Regions from separate parts of the Homo sapiens genome. Here region 2 is linked to region 1. Evidence: fine-mapped expression QTL. A gene starts in region 1. The other region holds a variant in brackets. All regions are shown on one strand. Distances are between the middles of the regions.

Region 1 (8,331 bases):
AATAGAAGACAAATTAGTCTTCTGTTTCTAGCAATGGATAATCTGAAAGTCTTTCTGCAGGGAGATAATTCAGGGAGAATTACACTAGACTTTTGAAAGGCATCCTTAACTCATGTCTGACGTATCAATTAGTGTAAGAGAGAACTAAGTTACTCTGAAGTTACTAAAAAAAGTAACATGGCTTGAAATAAATATAATCGTGCTTATATTTCCATTTAATTCACTTTGAGAGGGGATGTAGAGTCTGCTTTTCAAAGAAAACCACATGTAAGATTAGTAACATTCAAAGCTATCATGTAGCAGATTTATGAGAACTCTACTGACACATGGTTTTGGCTCCACTGGGAAATGGAGGGGAACAGGGCCAGCAAAATGTATTTAACAAAGAGATTTTACACATCTCACTGCCACAGACTCACAAAGACTGGCAGAAATGAGTAATAGCGAGGCTTATAATTAGGTCCTCTTTTCTGCTGTGGAATGCTATGACTGCTGTTAGATGAAACAGAAAGAATCTCGCTAATTCTAACTCTGCTAATCTGCATTTGCAATAACTCATCAAACAAGCACTCACCCCATTTCTCTGCAAATATTTTGTAGTCAAGAGCAGTGGTAAGGTCTCAAATCATTAAGGCTGGATTACTTCTACAGAGGACTGCAGACGACAGCACATTTGCCAGGACATGATGCAGTGCCATCCATCACTTGTAAATAACAATACCTGTATTTGCACAGCACCTTTCTCTAACACTCTTCAGAAGCCTTTACAAACTGCCTCATTCGTCTCCCACCTTGGGAGGAGGCACCTGGCCAGTGATGGAGTCGTCTGTCGGGCTGCTGAAGTTCCAAAAGGCAACAGCCTTTCCGGCCGCTCCCACTAGGTCACTAGCTCAGGGGAGTTGGCAACAGACACTCCAAACAATTGGGTCAGGTTTTTTTTTTTTAGACGAAATATTCGCTCTTCTTGCCCAGGCTGGAGTCCAGTGGTGTGATCCTGGCTCACCACAACCTCTGCCTCCCAGGTTCAAGCGATTTTCCTGCCTCAGCCTACAGAGTAGCTGAGATTACAGGCACCCACCAGCACACCCGACTAATTTTGTATTTTTGGTAGAGACGGGGTTTCACCATGTTGGCCAGGCTAGTCTTGAACTCCTGAGCTCAGGTGCTCTCCCCACCTGGGTCTCCCAAAGTGCTGGGATTATAGGCGTGAGCCACGACACCCGGCTCTGGGTCAGGTTTTTAAACGGCACTGTCCTCGGTATCTCAATGTTAAGATGACTGGTGATTTCATGAGTTAAACGTGCCAAGCGCTTAGAAGTGTGTCAGCACATTGTGACACTCAACAAACTTCATTAGTGTTTCCACCAGTCTGCTGCCTGAACCGGCCAAGAGGACCACCTGCATCCCTGCGCACAGTACAGAGAGCTCAGAGTTGAGGAAGGTGTGGGCCCGGTTTGCTATGGGGGCAGTGAGGGGTGAGAAGAGGCCCTGGGGAAACTCTGGAGTGCTTATTGAGTATTTTGTGCCACCCCGGGAATAAAGAGATCAAGAAGACCCAGCCCTGGAAGCAAGAAGACAGGCAGAGAGGCGAAGGTTAGTGCACGAAGGAAAACAAGGGGATTGCGGGGAATGTACAGGAGATATGGGCCAGACAGCAACAAAGAGAAGACACAAAAGAACATTAAGATAGTCACTGTAAGAGAATTTTATTATTTCTGATTGAGCATTGAGGCACAAGTCTGTTATCCAATTTAAGCACTTAATGAAAGCATTCTCAACATTTTTAAGGCAGTGATTTTGATTTATGAACTGTGCTCTTGGCTATCCTTGATGATTATCCTTTAGTGTAGTGGGCCGCCTTTTTTTTTTTTTTTTAAAAACTATCTACCCTTCAGAGCTGCCTACTCTCTGGCAATGCCAGACTAAACAAGAACACCAGAGCTTCCTGCCAGAAAAGGTTCACACATGGTCCTCTGTAACATCTAGGAAAGCGCATTTGAGGGGTGCTGTTGGCATCTGAGGGGTGCTGTTGGCATTTGAGGGGTGCTGTTGGCATTTGAGGGGTGCTGTTGGCATTTGAGGGATGCTGCTGGCATTTGAGGGGTGCTGCTATTGGGCCCCTCCTCTAACTATGGTCTTGGAGACAGATGACAGATGGTGACAGCCACCCGCAAGAGCTCACCCCGTAAGTCTAAAGGGGTTGCCCTGAAGTTACTAGAGGAGTTTACCTGGGGGATGAACAGTGCTGGTACCCTGATGCTGAAGCGGGACGTGAGACTCACTGCAGCAAACACAGCCCCACCCTGTGACTTGCCCCGAGGCCCAAACCTCGAATTTCATAAAGGAGAAAAACTGAGCCCCAGTGAAGCGTGAAGTGATGTCTTCAAACTTAGAACCCAAGCTCACTGCTACACTAGCACAAATAAGCTGCCTCTTCCCTCCTCAGGGGTAAATAAACTACTTACTCTGTAATTCACAAAGCCTAGCTGTTTACTCTGCAATTCAAAGAAAACCAGAGTCCAGCAAGGAATTTCTCCCAGGGAGTGAGTATGTACAGTTTATACCTCTGACCTTAAAAATCTCCATATGGGCACTTTGGAAGGCTGAGGTGGGTGGATCACCTGAAGTCAGGAGTTCAAGACCAGCCTGGCCAACATGGCAAAATCCGGTCTCTACTAAAAATACAAAAATCAGCCAGGTGTGGTGGCAGGCACCTGTAAACCCAGCTACTCGGGAGGCTGAGGCAGGAGAATCTCTTGAACCTAGAAGGCGGAGGTTGCAGTGAGCCAAGATCGTGCCACTGCACTCCCAGGTGACAGAGTGAGACTCTGTTTCAAAAAACAAAACAAAAAACTTCTTTATGGGTGTGTCTCTGTATGCAATTTAATTACTGTACTTTGGTTCTGTATCATTCCAACAGATACGCTTTAATGTAACCCATGTCCTGGGGAGTGGAGGGCCAGAGCAGGTGGCTGCTGCAGTTCCTGGAGGCAGCCCTGCCCGGGGTGGAAATCAAGGCGCTCCTCCCCACAGTGGACAGGGACCCGCTGTGGTGGAATGGAAGTCAGTTATCCTTAAAAGAAATCCCATCAAAAAAAAAACTCCCTTTGAAGTACTTTTTTTCTTAAAACCAATGCAACACAAATTCCCCCAAAACCATTTTCCATCACAGTGGAATGATTTTCTAAAACCCCATGCCTCTTAAGTTCTCTGGCATCAGTTAGACATTTTTCTTTCCCAGTGCCAGTTAGTTTTGTTGTAGAGAGCCTCCGTCACCACTGAAAAATATTGCCTACTCTGGACTGCAACATATTTAAAGAACGGCTCCTATTCATTGTGCTGGTGCAGAGAATTCCCGCCCTATAGCGGAGGACAGCAGAGAAGGATAATGGGAATCTTTTTTTTTTTTTTTTTTTTTTTTGAGATGGAGTCTCGCTCGCTTTGTCGCCAAGGCTGGAGTGCTTTGGCTCAATCTTGGCTCACTACAACTTCTGCCTCCCGGGTTCAAGCCATTCTCCTGCCTCGGCCTCCTGAATAGCTGGGATTACAGGCGCCCGCCACCATGCCCAGCTAATTTTTCTACTTTTAGTAGAGATGGGGTTTCACCATGTTATCCAGGCTAGTCTTGAACTCCTGACCTCAAGTGATCCACCCTCCTTGGCCTCCCAAACTGCTGGGGTTACAGGCATGAGCCACCGCGCCTGGCCAGGAATCTTTATTGTCAAGAAAATGGCGCAAATGTGCCACCAAAAGAAGCCATGTTTCTCAAAGACTTCTGTTCCTACAAGACTGAGTTTATGACACTAAGGCGTGCTATTAAGACCTAAAAGAACCTCACGCATCCATACATTGAAGTGACTTGGCTTCTGAGACCCAAGGCCTTTGATCTTCTCACCAGTGTCCCTCCATATGGGCCGACTGCCACTGGAAAGGAGAGTAGAAACGGAAACAGACCCGTCTGGACAGAATCCAAAGTGCAAACAGGAACTGTGCCCAGAGAGAGGAGGAGGTGGCAGAAGCATGAAGGCTGCTTAGATCCCTATGTTCTAAGAAAGACCGCTCTTTCCTGGCTTTAACTTCCTTGGCTCAGAAGTTTAGGATTTGCTCAAAATCAGAAAAAGCAACTTTGGGGGAAAAAAAAAATCTGGATGTGGAAGAAACTGGCGGTGAAAGTCATATTGAGTGATTAATGATAAAAATTATTTCCGCTCCTTGGTTCTTGAGTCGGTATGAAACGCTGGCAGCCTCTAATTAATCATCACCATGATATTAACACCACTGACTTTTCATTGCTTCTGCTACTTTCTTTCTAGACATCTGTATCCTCTAAGTAAATATTATCCGCCAAAACTTTGTTATAAGTTGTGCAACTGGGTTCGCCCAAGGCACCGGAGCCTGCGCGCAATCGCACAGGTACGCGGCCGCCCGCGGTCCTCAGGAAGAAACGCTTCGCCGCCGCCGGCAAGCGGGGCCGAAGCTCCGGCGGGCTCCTCCCGGGCCTGGGCGCCCGACCTCTCCGCGGCCCGCGCCCCTCGGGCGGGCATCAAGGCCCGGAACCCGTCTCAGCGCTCGCCGGGGCCCTCCCCGCGGAGCCCCCGCCCGGCGCCCCCGGGTTCGAGCCCGCCCCCGGCACCCGCGCGTGGAGAGAGAGGAAAAGAGTCAGTACCGGCGGGCGGGTGTCCAGCTTTAGTCTCTAGTTTCCCTTCGGGAGGCGAAGACATGACGCGGCGGGGCTTCCGCGGGGCCGAGGCGGCGGCGCGGTTCTCGGGCCGGGCGGGCGTGCGCGAGTGAGCTCAGGTGTGAGCGCCGGGGAGCGAGCGGGCGGGAGAACGACGCGCGCGCGTGGGGCGCCGGGGCCGCGCGAGCCGGGTGAGTGCCACTGCCGTTAAGGGGGCGCGGCCGCCGCGCGCCGACGTGGCGCAGCCGAGCCCACCGACGGCATGCGCACTGACGTCACCGCGGCCCGCCCGCCCTGCTGGGCCGCGAGCCAAGCATACGGTGCGTGCGCAGCCGGCCGCGCCACGTCGGATGCTGTGGCCGGGGGCGGGGGCGGGGGCGGGGGCGGGGGCGGAGGAGGGAGGGGAGAGAAGGGGTGAAGAAGTGAGAGGGAGAAGGAAGGAGAGGGAGGCGGGGTCCCCGACTGGCTGCGGGGACTGGAGTTGCGGAAAGTTAAGTAGGGCCCAGCTGAGGATGGCTCCTGCAGCGAACGCGCTCAGCCGGGCTCCTGGCTACGCGGCGACGGCTGGGTGACTGCGCCCCACAGTGCGGGCCAGGGCCGGGGCGTCCCGGCAGGGAGGCGACCGTCCCCTGAGGCCCTCAGCCCCTGCCGCGGCAGCGCCTAATGAAGCGCGGAAAGGAGAGCCCAGATGGCAGCGACGGGGGCCGAGAGAGCAGGAATTTGTTAAAAGACGATGCGAGGGGAGAGCCTGCTTTCCGAGTGAGGGCCAGCGCTGGGGAGCAGAGACGGTGGCTTCTGTCCCTGCCCTCCTCGTTATGAACCAAAAATAAAATTCTAAGCCCTGCAGCCAACGGATGGACCCTCCCCTCCGCCTGTGGCCTTCTAAGTTATCTTGAAAAACTAGTTCAGGCCTTGATGGGAAGCGGAAGTCAAACATGGCCTCACAAACATCCGCACGGAGACCCTAAGACTAATAGAGGACTCTGATAAGAAACATTTGCAGTGTATTCCCGGCTTCATCTGCATGATAACACCTTGGTCTCCACAACTCCTTCATGCAACCCGGACATTCCCTTCTACTGAGTCCAGGTCTTTAGATGATAACTCTCAACCAGTTGCCAATCAGAAAACCTTTAAATGTACCTATGACCCGGACGCCTCCACTTCACATTTTACCTCCTAAAGAGCCAACCTACATCTTACGTATTGATTGATGTCTCATGTCTCCCTCAAATGTATAAAACCAAGATGTTTCCTGGCCACCCTGGGCACATGTCATCAGAACCTCCTGAGGTTGTGTCAATGCACGTCCTTAACCTTGGCAAAATAAACTTCCTAAATTGAGACCACTCTCAGAAACTTTTGGTTTTCACCATCATCTTCCTGTTGCCGTGGCTGACCCCTGGCTCTCGTGCCTTGGATCGTGTTCTTCCCGCCTGCCCCAGTGTTTTGCAACTGCTGTTAACTTCCGCAATGCCTTGCTGGATTCGCATTCAGACAGGCCTAATCTCTTTAGCGAAGGAAACACCACCCCTCGCTTGGCTGTACTTTTCCCTTTGACAACAAAACTGTTCAGGGAGGCTGAGCTCCTCATCTCTTGTCACTCCCTCCAGTCCAGTTTGTCTGGTTTTCATCAAGTTCTGCTGCACTGCCCTCAACCATGGGAGGTCCTTTTGTGGAAGTCACTTATAACCTATGTGCTGCCAGATCCAATGGTCATTTTCTACTTTCATTCTATTTGAGCTCTTAGCAGCACTTGATGCAGCTGGCCGTCCCCCTCCTCCTTTGCTCCGGAGGTGCCACATCACTGCCTTACCCTCCAGTTCTCTGGCCACCCTGGCTGCTCACTCTGTCAGCTTGGCAGTTCGCCCTCTTCTAGATTTATAAACATTTGAGTATCGCAAGGCTCAGCATTGGCCTTCTTCTCTATCTAGACTTCCCATAGATAGTCACATGCAGCCTGTGGACGACTATCATGCAGATGCTTACAGGTGCCAAATCTGCAACCTCATTTCTCTATTTCTGCTCCTCCCCTGAACTCCAGACTCACCACCACCACCACCTGCAGACGCTTATGGGTGCCACATCTGCAACTTAATTTCTCTCTTTCTGCCCCTCCACTGAACTCCAAACTCACCACCGCCACCTTGGCTTCTCTATTTGTTGTCTAACTCAGTGCTGCGCAACTCTGTGCATCAGGGCACACATGGAGATGCACATAGCATACATTGGTCTTGCATTCCCCACTCCATACACACATTTCAACACCGGTAATAGGATAATTGTTGGCCAGGCTGCAGTCATGATATGCTTGCCATTGTCTTGCATTCACATCCAAACTTCCAAGTGGGTGCCAGCAGTTTAGAAGAGAATCCTGAAATTAATACTGGGTTACTCTTTAAAGAGATAGCACATCACTCACGTTCTTAAAGGTTTAAGGATACCTAACTGATTAATTTCATGAGTAACTTCCTTTTTATGTATGTGCAAAAGTGCTATATAGTTAAAAACTTATGTCGTATGTCTTAAGCCTAAAGAATTATTTCTTGGAAGTATAAAATGAAAATTTTAAGTTGAAAGAGCACATTGTGGTATCATTTAATTGGTAGTGTTTTTACCCTTAGTGGTACCTAAAACAAAGTTGCATGTTACGAGCCACAGCATCTTAGACTCAATAACAAATGCTATTGGTAAGGAACCCTGGGGGGTGGGGGAGAAAGCCTTCACAGGAAGGAGCAGAGCTCCAGAGGGGCCCTGGTGGCCCCTGGACTGCCCTGAGGTCTGACAGGTTGTGTCTCTTTGCCTGTGACCTGTTCTCCAGGTTTGTACTGATTGGGAAACTCTGGTTGTCTTACAGTAGGTAGCTAGTCGGCCTGAGCAGGGCAGGAGAGGACTCTTCCCCCACAACCCACACCACCAGAAATGTTGTGTGACCATCAGGTGATGGTCAGGAAGTTGTTACACTGTTTCTCTAAAATAATAATTGGTTGCAGTCAGTGCCAGGGAAAGGCAGTCTCCCAGTAGATAGAAAAAACCTGAAAGTGGTGGTCAGCAGCTTCCTGGTAAGATCTCTTTGCCACACATCGAGAGGCAAAATGGCAACGTTTGACTGGTATATGACCTTCTAGGAACATGAGGCTGGTAAGGGAAGATTGCCTCAAGTGAGCATGTGTACACTTCCAATAAACACACTGCCCCTGCTCACTTTCCAAGCGCTGGCAAGTCACTGTGCATGTGGACAGCCTACCCCAAGGGAAGAATCAGGGGATAAGACTGATCCCTGAAGAATCAAGGGATGCAAGACTCCAGAAGTATGCCAATGTATAAAACCCTAAGTCAAAGGTCAAACCGTGCACTTGATCTCTAAAGTTACCTGCTTGGCCATCTTCCAAGTGTACTTTCCTTTTGTTCCAGATCTAAAGCTTTTTAATAAACTTTCACTCCTCCTTTAAAGTTGCCTCAGTCTCTCTTTCTGCTTTATACCCCTCAGTTGAATTCTTCCTTCTGAAGAGGCAAGAATTGAGGTTGCTGCAGACCTGTACAGATTCACTGCCACTAACGTATTATATTTGGGTGCTACGTGATTCAGGTACATTCTGCTCCTGACAGTGTGACAGCCAAGTTAATTTTACATCTTCAAAGAACTCTTGATT
Region 2 (8,331 bases), 33 kb after region 1:
TGAGCCCACAGTTGGAATTCTGTATTGGGGTTTAGAAATGTGAGCACCAGGATGCTGAAAACATGAGCACCAGGATGCTGAAAACATTGAAAAGAGTCCAGGCAAAAGCAGGGCAGTTACTAGAGAACAGAAGTCTCAACTTGTGAAGAATTCAGTGTGAAACACATGCGCTTTGGCCACCAGGAAATTATACTTGTTTGCCCAAGTTTTTTCCAAGAGGAAGATGCTTCAGGGATATGTAACACGCTCTTGTGGAAAGAATGCTGGTTTATAGGCCTCTGCACAGGGACTCCCCTAAACCTCTACCCCAAGTCTGGATGAAGAAAACAGTGAGAGGTGCACCAGATGAGGAGCCAAAGCTTTTCACAAGAACCAAATAATGTTTTACCAGTTAGGGTGCTTTTGGCTGTAAGTAATAGACCAGATAACAAAGAAGCTAAGGTCATTTATTATTTCCTTCACAAGAAGTTCAGAGATAGGCCAGTACCAGGCTTGGTTAACTCAGCAGTGCAACAAAATCCTCTAAAACTCAATTCCTCCCCCCTTCTCTCTCTGCGATCCTCGTGGGCTTGATTTATCCTTTTAGGGTTGGCTTCCCTCATGATGCAGAGATGGCTATGACAATTCCAGGCATGCCATGTAGATGACAACATCTCTGTCCCTTTTTAAGAGTAAGGGATAATTTCCCAGAGGTTCCCCAGCAGATTCTTACTTCCACTGCCCTTGACCATGACTGTGATCTCTTTCCAAGCTGTATTAGTCCGGGTTCTCCTGAGAAACAGAACTAATAGGAGATAGATATATTTATGTACATACACTCAAGTGTGTATGTGTTTGTGTGTGTGTGTATATATATAAAATAAAGAATTGGCTTACATGATTATGGAGGCTGAAATGTCCCCAGATCTGCAGTGCAAAGGCCTGAGATTCAGGAGAGCTAATGATGTTAAGTTCTAGCATGAGTCCAAAGCAGAAGAGAGACGTCCCAGCCCAAAGTCAGGCAGGCAGAGAGAGCAAATTCTCTCTTGCTCAGCCTTTTGTTCTAATCAGGCCTTCAACAGATTGGATGAGGCCCATCCACATTGGGGAGGGCAATCTGCTTCACTCAGTCTACCAATTCCCATGCTAATCTCACCTGGAAACACCATCACAGACTCACCCAGAAATAAAGTTTACCCAAATATCCAGATGCCTCATGGCACAGTCAAGTTGACACAACAGTAACCATCACACAATCTTAAACTAGCCACCAACAAGGGGAGTAAAATGACTATGAATGGCCGAGACCAATCCCAATTCACTCTAGGGCTAGAGGGGGAGCTCAGCCCCCAGAAGCTCAAGGCCTTCCAGTCCCTGGACACAGCTGGGGTTCTGTTGGCAAGTAATAGGGGGAAGAGCTGTGGGGCAGTGACCAAGAATGGCTGCACCCTCTGCTCCATGTAACTCACCGAGGAGGTCCCCAAAATGTAATGCATGACAGGATGTTAGCTAACACTTGCTGGGCACGTACTCTGCACTAGGTGTGGTACTAAGCACTTGGTAGGTGTCATCTCATTCAATCAGTTTAACAACCTGAAGCTCCTTGTGTTGGGCTTTGTTGGGAGGTGAGATGGACCTTAATAACTGAATCTTCCTGGAAGAGCCCAGGGTTAATCCTCTTAATATCAAATTGCTCTCCATAAATAACTGCTTTGCTGTGGTTCTTGTGAATTCCTTCTTCTTTTCTTTCTAGTAGTTGACTTCACTTTAGACAACTGCAATTTCTACTCTGGCATGATTTCTCAGAGGCGGTCCTCAACAAACATGCCTGGGGTCAGGGAGAGAGTCCAGTGATATGAAAAACTAGCCCAGAATGGAAAACTCCTTGAAGTTCTGCAATTATATATTATTTTTTATTTTGTTTTTGATTTTTTGAATTGAATTTGATTTGTTGAATAAATTAATTCAAGCAATACAAAAGTACTGTTGAGAGCAAGTGTGCCTCCCACCTTAGTCCCTGCCCAAATCAGCTCTCCCATGGATCCATTCATCCTTCCCTTCCTAGTTATTGATAAACTATTGTTACGCAAAGGTCTGTGCCAGGTTCAAGCTGACTCGTGGAGTTCCAATGGAGTTATCTTTAGTTCTTCCCTCCCACACAGGAAGCACCCATCAGGTGCCAAGTCCTAAACATCCATCTTGACAAAATCTCTGAAGTCCTCATTCCCTGTTTGTTTATTGTTTCTCCTTGGACTCATTCTGCCAGCCTCCAGTGGCCTCCATGACAACATTGCCTCCTTCTCTGTTGTCTCCGTCTTCTTTAAGTGCATTTTTTATAAAGATACACTACGTTATAGGTGGAATACTGTGTCGCTCCAAATGCACACGTTGATGTTCTAACCCAGTAACTCAGAATGTCACTGTAGTTGCAGGTAGGGTCTTTAAAGAGGCAATTAAATTTAAGTGAGGTCTTTGAGGTGAGCCCTAATCCAATCTGACCGGTGTCCTTAATAGTAAGAGGTGATTAGGACACAGACACACACAGGGATAGACCATGTGAAGACACAGGGAGAAGACGGCTATCTACAAGCTGAGGACTGAGGCCTCAGAAGAAACAAGACCTAGTGACGCTTTGATATTAGACTTCCAGCCTCCAGAACTGTGAGAACATAAATTTGTGTTTGAGCCACACGGTGTGTGGCACTTTGTTATGGAAGGCCTCGCGGGCAAACACAGACTACGTACAATCCAGCCACTCACTTGCTGAAAGCTCTGTAGTGGCTTCTGGCTGTTTAACAGTGAGGCAGCACTGGCCCACCTCTCAGGGCCCTTCTGATCTGGCGTGGACCTGCCTCTACTGTCCCGCTTGCTTACCATCCATGCTCTGGGCTTCAGCTCACACTGGGCTGATTCCCATCCAGGGAACACGGCTGTGCTTCCTTGCCTTTCGCCTTTGCACAGGCTGTTCCCTCTGCAAAAAACATATTTGCATTTCCCATCACGCCCCTCCCATTTCTACCTGTTGAAATCACGTCCATCACTCAAACCCAGCCACAGTGCCATCTCCTTTAGAAAGGCATATGCTTTCCTAAAGCCACAATCTAGTTGGGTCCCTCCTTTTCACCTCCCTCATTGTTACAGGTAGTCAGACAGCATGAGCAGGGCAGAAGAGGGCTCTCCCATCCACTAGGAAGGTTGGGTAATGGTTCAGCAACGATCACAATGCCTCTCTAAAAATGGTAAATTGGCAGCCAGTGCCAGGGAGAGGCCATTTCCTGCTGGCCCACACCTGTTGCACTAAAGTGTTCACTGAATGCAGACACCAGGGAGAAGCAACTTCCTGAGCATATACATAAAGAGACAAAATGGCAGAGTATGACCTTCCAAGGGCACCCCACAGGAAAGGGAAGAAAGCCTCAGATGGGCATGTGCACAGCTTCCTAAACACACTGTGGGTGCTCACTTCCCAAGGGTAAGGGGAGCACTGTGTATGTGGGCAGCCCAGCCTAACGGAAGAATCGTGGAAAAGGGGCAGCCTATAAGGCCCTAGCATCAAGGTTAAACACCGCACTTGTTCTTCAAGTCACCCGCTTGGGTTTCTTCCAAGCCTACTTTCCTTTCTTTCCTGTTCTAAAGTCTTTTAAAATAAACTTACACTCCTGCTCCAAAACTTCCTTGGTCTCTTTTTCTACCTTATGCCTCTCAGTCAAATTCTTTCTTCTTTTTTTTTTTTTTTTTAGATGGAGTCTTGCTCTGTCTTCAGGCTGGGGTGCAGTGACGTGATCTCGGCTCACTGCAACCTCTGCCTCCCGGGTTCAAGCAATTCTCCTGCCTCAGCCTCCTGAGTACCTGGGACTATAGGCATGTGCCACCACGTCCAGCTAATTTTTGTATTTTTAGTAGAGATGGGGTTTCACCACGTTGGTGAGAATGGTCTTGGTCTCCTGACCTCATGATCCACCTGCTTGGGCCTCCCAAAGTGCTGGGATTACAGGTGTGAGCGACCGTGCCCGGCTAAATTCTTTCTTCTGTGGAGGCAAGAATTGAGGTTGCTGCAGGCCCATATGGATTCGCCAGTAACTCAGACATCTTCCACCAGGGTAACACCATCATCATTTGTAAAAGTCTCATGCCGGGATCAGACCTGCCCCGTATTCTATTCAGGTGTGCACTCAGTTGCCTTCCTATTTGACTTGCTCACCTTTCAGCGTGTCATCTAGGAGGACTAGACAAGTAGCACATTTTCACAAACACGAATGGAATGAACATGACAGGCCAGATTGGAAAATAGGATCAAAAATAAGTCAAAAAATGAAAATTATGTCTATGGAAAAAAAGAAATAGGAAACACGACTCAAATTGTGTCAACCCTAGGATGACCTGCAGGAAGTTGAAACCCTGGGTGGGAGAAGTACTGAATAGAAGAGAGAATGCTGCTCCCCTGACACTGCAGCTATATCGGAAAATACATTCTAAGTCTACTTAAGATAGAATTCCGGTTGAATATTCTGAAATGTGTTCTTACATGGAAGACATTTGACCCCTGGAGACAACTCAACAGAAGCTTTGCCTTGGAAAGCTGGTTGGATGGAGAGGTTTTGTGAGGTCTTTTTACTCTGGAATCTGAGATGCCTGGTGGAACTTGAGCAGCACTGTTCAGCAGGGGGCAGGCCACCAAGAGCACACATATACCCTTAAAAACCATCTGCTCTGCAAACATGCAGAAATCATTAATACATTGCAAGCGTGGTTTTGCCCAGACCTGCTGCAAAATGATCACAGGCAAAGTGGTTTGCGTACTCTCCCCCTCACTGATGGCTCTTTGGGCCGTCAGTTGAACAAGGAACCCACACGGAGCTAAAATGTACAAACGACAAATAAAATGTTGCCTCTCTCTCCAGACTCTCACAAAATCAGGAAAAACAAAAAAAACCTTTCTTTCCATTTCTGCAAGAAAGAAATGAGAGCTAAAACTGTTAGCCATGTGAAATCTAGTGGGGAAACCTGTTTTTTTTTTCCTATGAGTCTTAAAGCAGCAATAATTTGTTTTCCTTTCTTTTCCTTTCTTTTTTCTCCCCTCTGCCACATTAGAGAGGCTTGCTGACAAAGACTTGAGTAGGTTCTATAAGGAGCCCCAGG[C/T]ATCCCCAGATGTGGTGCACATTGAGATGGATGGAGAAGTTGTGTATGGCGGAGGAAACTAGGAGTGCCGCAGGATAGAAATCCACTGGGAGTAAGACGGGTTGGTGTCCCTCTGGAATCCGTGTTGCTGCCACTGCTCGGTAGAGAAGGGTGGGTGGAGTCATGTCCCTGGAACCTGCCTGACAGTGTTGCCAGTTCTCCTGCTTCACTTCTGGGGCTGCCCCCGTGTCCCTGATGTCAAAGCCATGAAGTTACTTCTGGGAGGGGAGAAATCAAGCTGGAGACCCTGAGACAGGGGTGAAATCAGAACCTGCTGCGCTGGTGGAATTTGGCAGATGCCTCCATGCTGTGAAGGGGCCATGGGCACCGAAAGGTCTCCCCACCCCTGCACCCTCTCACTCTGATGCCAAGGGCCTTTAGTTCCCCAGAAGCAGAACTGGAGCTGGGGAAGACTACATGAGGGATTCATGAAGCCAGAATTCTTAGGAGGAGGAGGGATCAGGAAGACACACGGTGGAAGGCACGGGGCTAGGTGGGGATGTGGCCTCTGCTGGAGACCAACTTCTGCCGGATCCCATGGCAGCTCCATCGGGTCCCTTTTGAGGTGAGGACATTGGCCTTTTGTATCTCTATGTTTTGTCTTTGACCACTGGCCATGGTGATGGTGTTGGGTGACTGACAAGGTAGCTCTGTGCTGGGCTGCACTTCCTTCCGCTGAAAGTCATTAGGATGCCTCGCGGCTCCTTGTGAGGTTGGACATGGCGGATGAGCACTGAAGGTGGCAGGATGCTTCAGTACAGAGACAGATGGTAGATGTTCTGGCTTTTCAGGCCACCTGATATGGTTAGGCTTTGTGCCCCCACTCAAATCTCATCTGGAATTGTAATCCCCATAATGCCCATGTGTTCAGAGAGAGACCAGGTGGAGGTAATTGAATCATGAGAGTGGTTCCCCCATGCTGTTCTCATGATGGTGAGTTCTCACGAGAGTTGATGGTTTTATAAGGGGCTCTTCCCTGCTTAACTAGGCATTCTCCTTCCTGCCACCTCGTGAAGAAGGTGCCTTGCATCCCTGTTGCCTTCCACCATGATTGTAAGTTTCCTGAGGCCTCCCTAGCCATGCAGAACTGTGAGTCAATTAAACCTCTTCTCTTTATTAATTACCTAGTCTCGGGCAGTTCTTATAGCAGTGTGAGAATGGACCAATACACCACCTGTGGTCTCTGTTGTATATTCTTTTTTGTTTTATTTCACCACTCTTTATAGAAACTCCATCATTGGCCTGAGAGCCACACAGAAACAATCCCTGATTGACTAAATCCATTAATTCATAAGGGATTGCAAAATGGTGATGGCCTAACTCTTCACGCTTCATTCACTAGCTGAATTATTTCTATAAAGAAAAAGATTCTGCCAGTCACCTATTTAATACCCTGAGGGACAGTTCATTTAGGAAAGACACGATAAATGCTTGGATTTTTCTGTTTACTTACTATCTTAGCCCATTCCAGGCTGCTATAACAATACACATGAGACTGGGTGATTGATAAAGAACACACACTCATTTCTCACCATTTTGGAGGCTGGAAGTCCAGGATCAAGGCACCTAGAGTTTTGTTGTTTGATGAGGGCCTGTTCTCTGCTTCCAAGATAGAGCCTTGTTGCCAGAGGTGATCAATACTGTATTCTCATGTGGCAGGAGAGATGGAGGGGCCAAAGGCCTGGCTAGTTCCCCAGAGCCCTTTCATAAGGGTTCTAATCCCATTCATGAAGGCAGAGCCCTCACAATCTAACCACCTCCCAAAGGCCAACCTCTTAATACTGTTATCACACTGGGTCTTAGGTTCCCATGTATGCATTTTTGGGGATACATACATTCAGATCATAGCATGTACTGATTTTAATAATAATGAGTTTGTTTCTAGACATTCTCCAGAGATAATCAAGATTTTTTTTTTTTCCTCTTAGTATAATTGTGAACTTAGGGATGTAAGCATATTGACAGGTTCAGGATCAAATTTGCCATCTTTGGGCAGTTTGGCCTCTGAATATTTTTCAACAGTTTTATTGAGATATATAATTCACATACAGTACAAACACCCATTTAAAGGGCACAATTCAATGGTTTTTAGTATATTCACAGAGTTGCACAACCATCACCACAATTAATTTTAGAACATTTTTGTCATCCCCGAAAGAAACCCTGTACCCACCAGCAGTCATTCTCCATTTCCCTCCACCTACCTCTTCCATCCCTGTACCCCACCCCCAGACCTAGGCAACCACTAATCCACTTTCTAGACGAGACTGTTCTGGACAATTCATATACACTGAATGATATAATAGGCGGTCTTTTGTGACTGGCTGCTTTCATTTAGTAAAATGTTTTCAAGGGTCCTCTACATTGTAGCATGTATCAATATTTCATTTCTTCTAATTGCCAATTAATATTCCATTCTGTGGATGTACCACTTTGTATTTATCCATCCATTGGTTGATGGACATTTGGTTGTTTCCTCTTGGCTTCTGAGTCTTTTTGATAGCTCCCTAGCAGTCTTTGGCAGCTTCCTTCCTTTCTAGCATAATACGAAGTTCCAGACTCTTCTTATATATGTCTACCGCAGGCTTGGGAAAACTCACTCTCCAAGGAGCACATATTCGTTTTAATGGGAAATGCAATGTCAAGATAAAACCTGGGTGCTAGGGATGTTTATTGTTACTGGGCTGGTCATTGATTCTAGGACTTGCAACAGACAGAGACAAAACATTTTTTTGGTTGTTTACTTGTTTGTTTATTTGCTGTTTAAGATAAACTTTACCTGGTGAATGTCCTGAAGCTTCCAGTTCAAAGTTAGGACCACAGAGTTTTTACTTAGCTTCATCAATATTACAATTGTATTTTTTTCTATGCTAAAATGTCAGATTCTCAGTGACACCAAAGTAATGACTCATTTGCATTATCCCATAAGACACGCAGACACAAGTTTCATGTCGCAATATCAAAACTTGTGGGAGCAATGTATTTACTGAAAACAGTTTAAAATTTGTTCAAAGTTATTTTTGCCTTACAGATTTGTCACTGGAGATGTACAGTTGGAAATGTATTTTAACGGCATTTGGAATAGTTCCTCTTTGTGGTTATGCTATCAACTGGTTGCCACTTAAGTTCATTTAGTTCACTTTATTTTTGATTTTTAGAGATTGATTTTATAGA

The links. PIP is the estimated chance that this variant, and not a neighbour inherited with it, causes the effect. A credible set is the group of variants that fine-mapping cannot tell apart.
Region 2: its variant is the best candidate, but not a certain one, in a credible set for the expression of DAP in whole blood (INTERVAL, PIP 0.75).

What each region holds. Positions count from the first base shown.
Region 1 is chr5:10,756,348-10,764,678 of GRCh38, forward strand. DAP (death associated protein) reads right to left here and starts at 4,887. Exons shown (of 4, transcript NM_004394.3): 1 at 4,667-4,887. The coding sequence starts at 4,721. DAP-DT (DAP divergent transcript) reads left to right here and starts at 4,689. Exons shown (of 3, transcript NR_187555.1): 1 at 4,689-4,869. RefSeq lists silencers at 307-396, 4,443-4,872, 4,953-5,422 and enhancers at 617-696, 4,945-5,790.
Region 2 is chr5:10,789,315-10,797,645 of GRCh38, forward strand. No RefSeq gene overlaps it. Among named protein-coding and RNA genes, the nearest start is that of CTD-2154B17.1, 6.4 kb to the left of the region's middle. The variant C/T (reference allele first, on the strand shown) is at 5,119.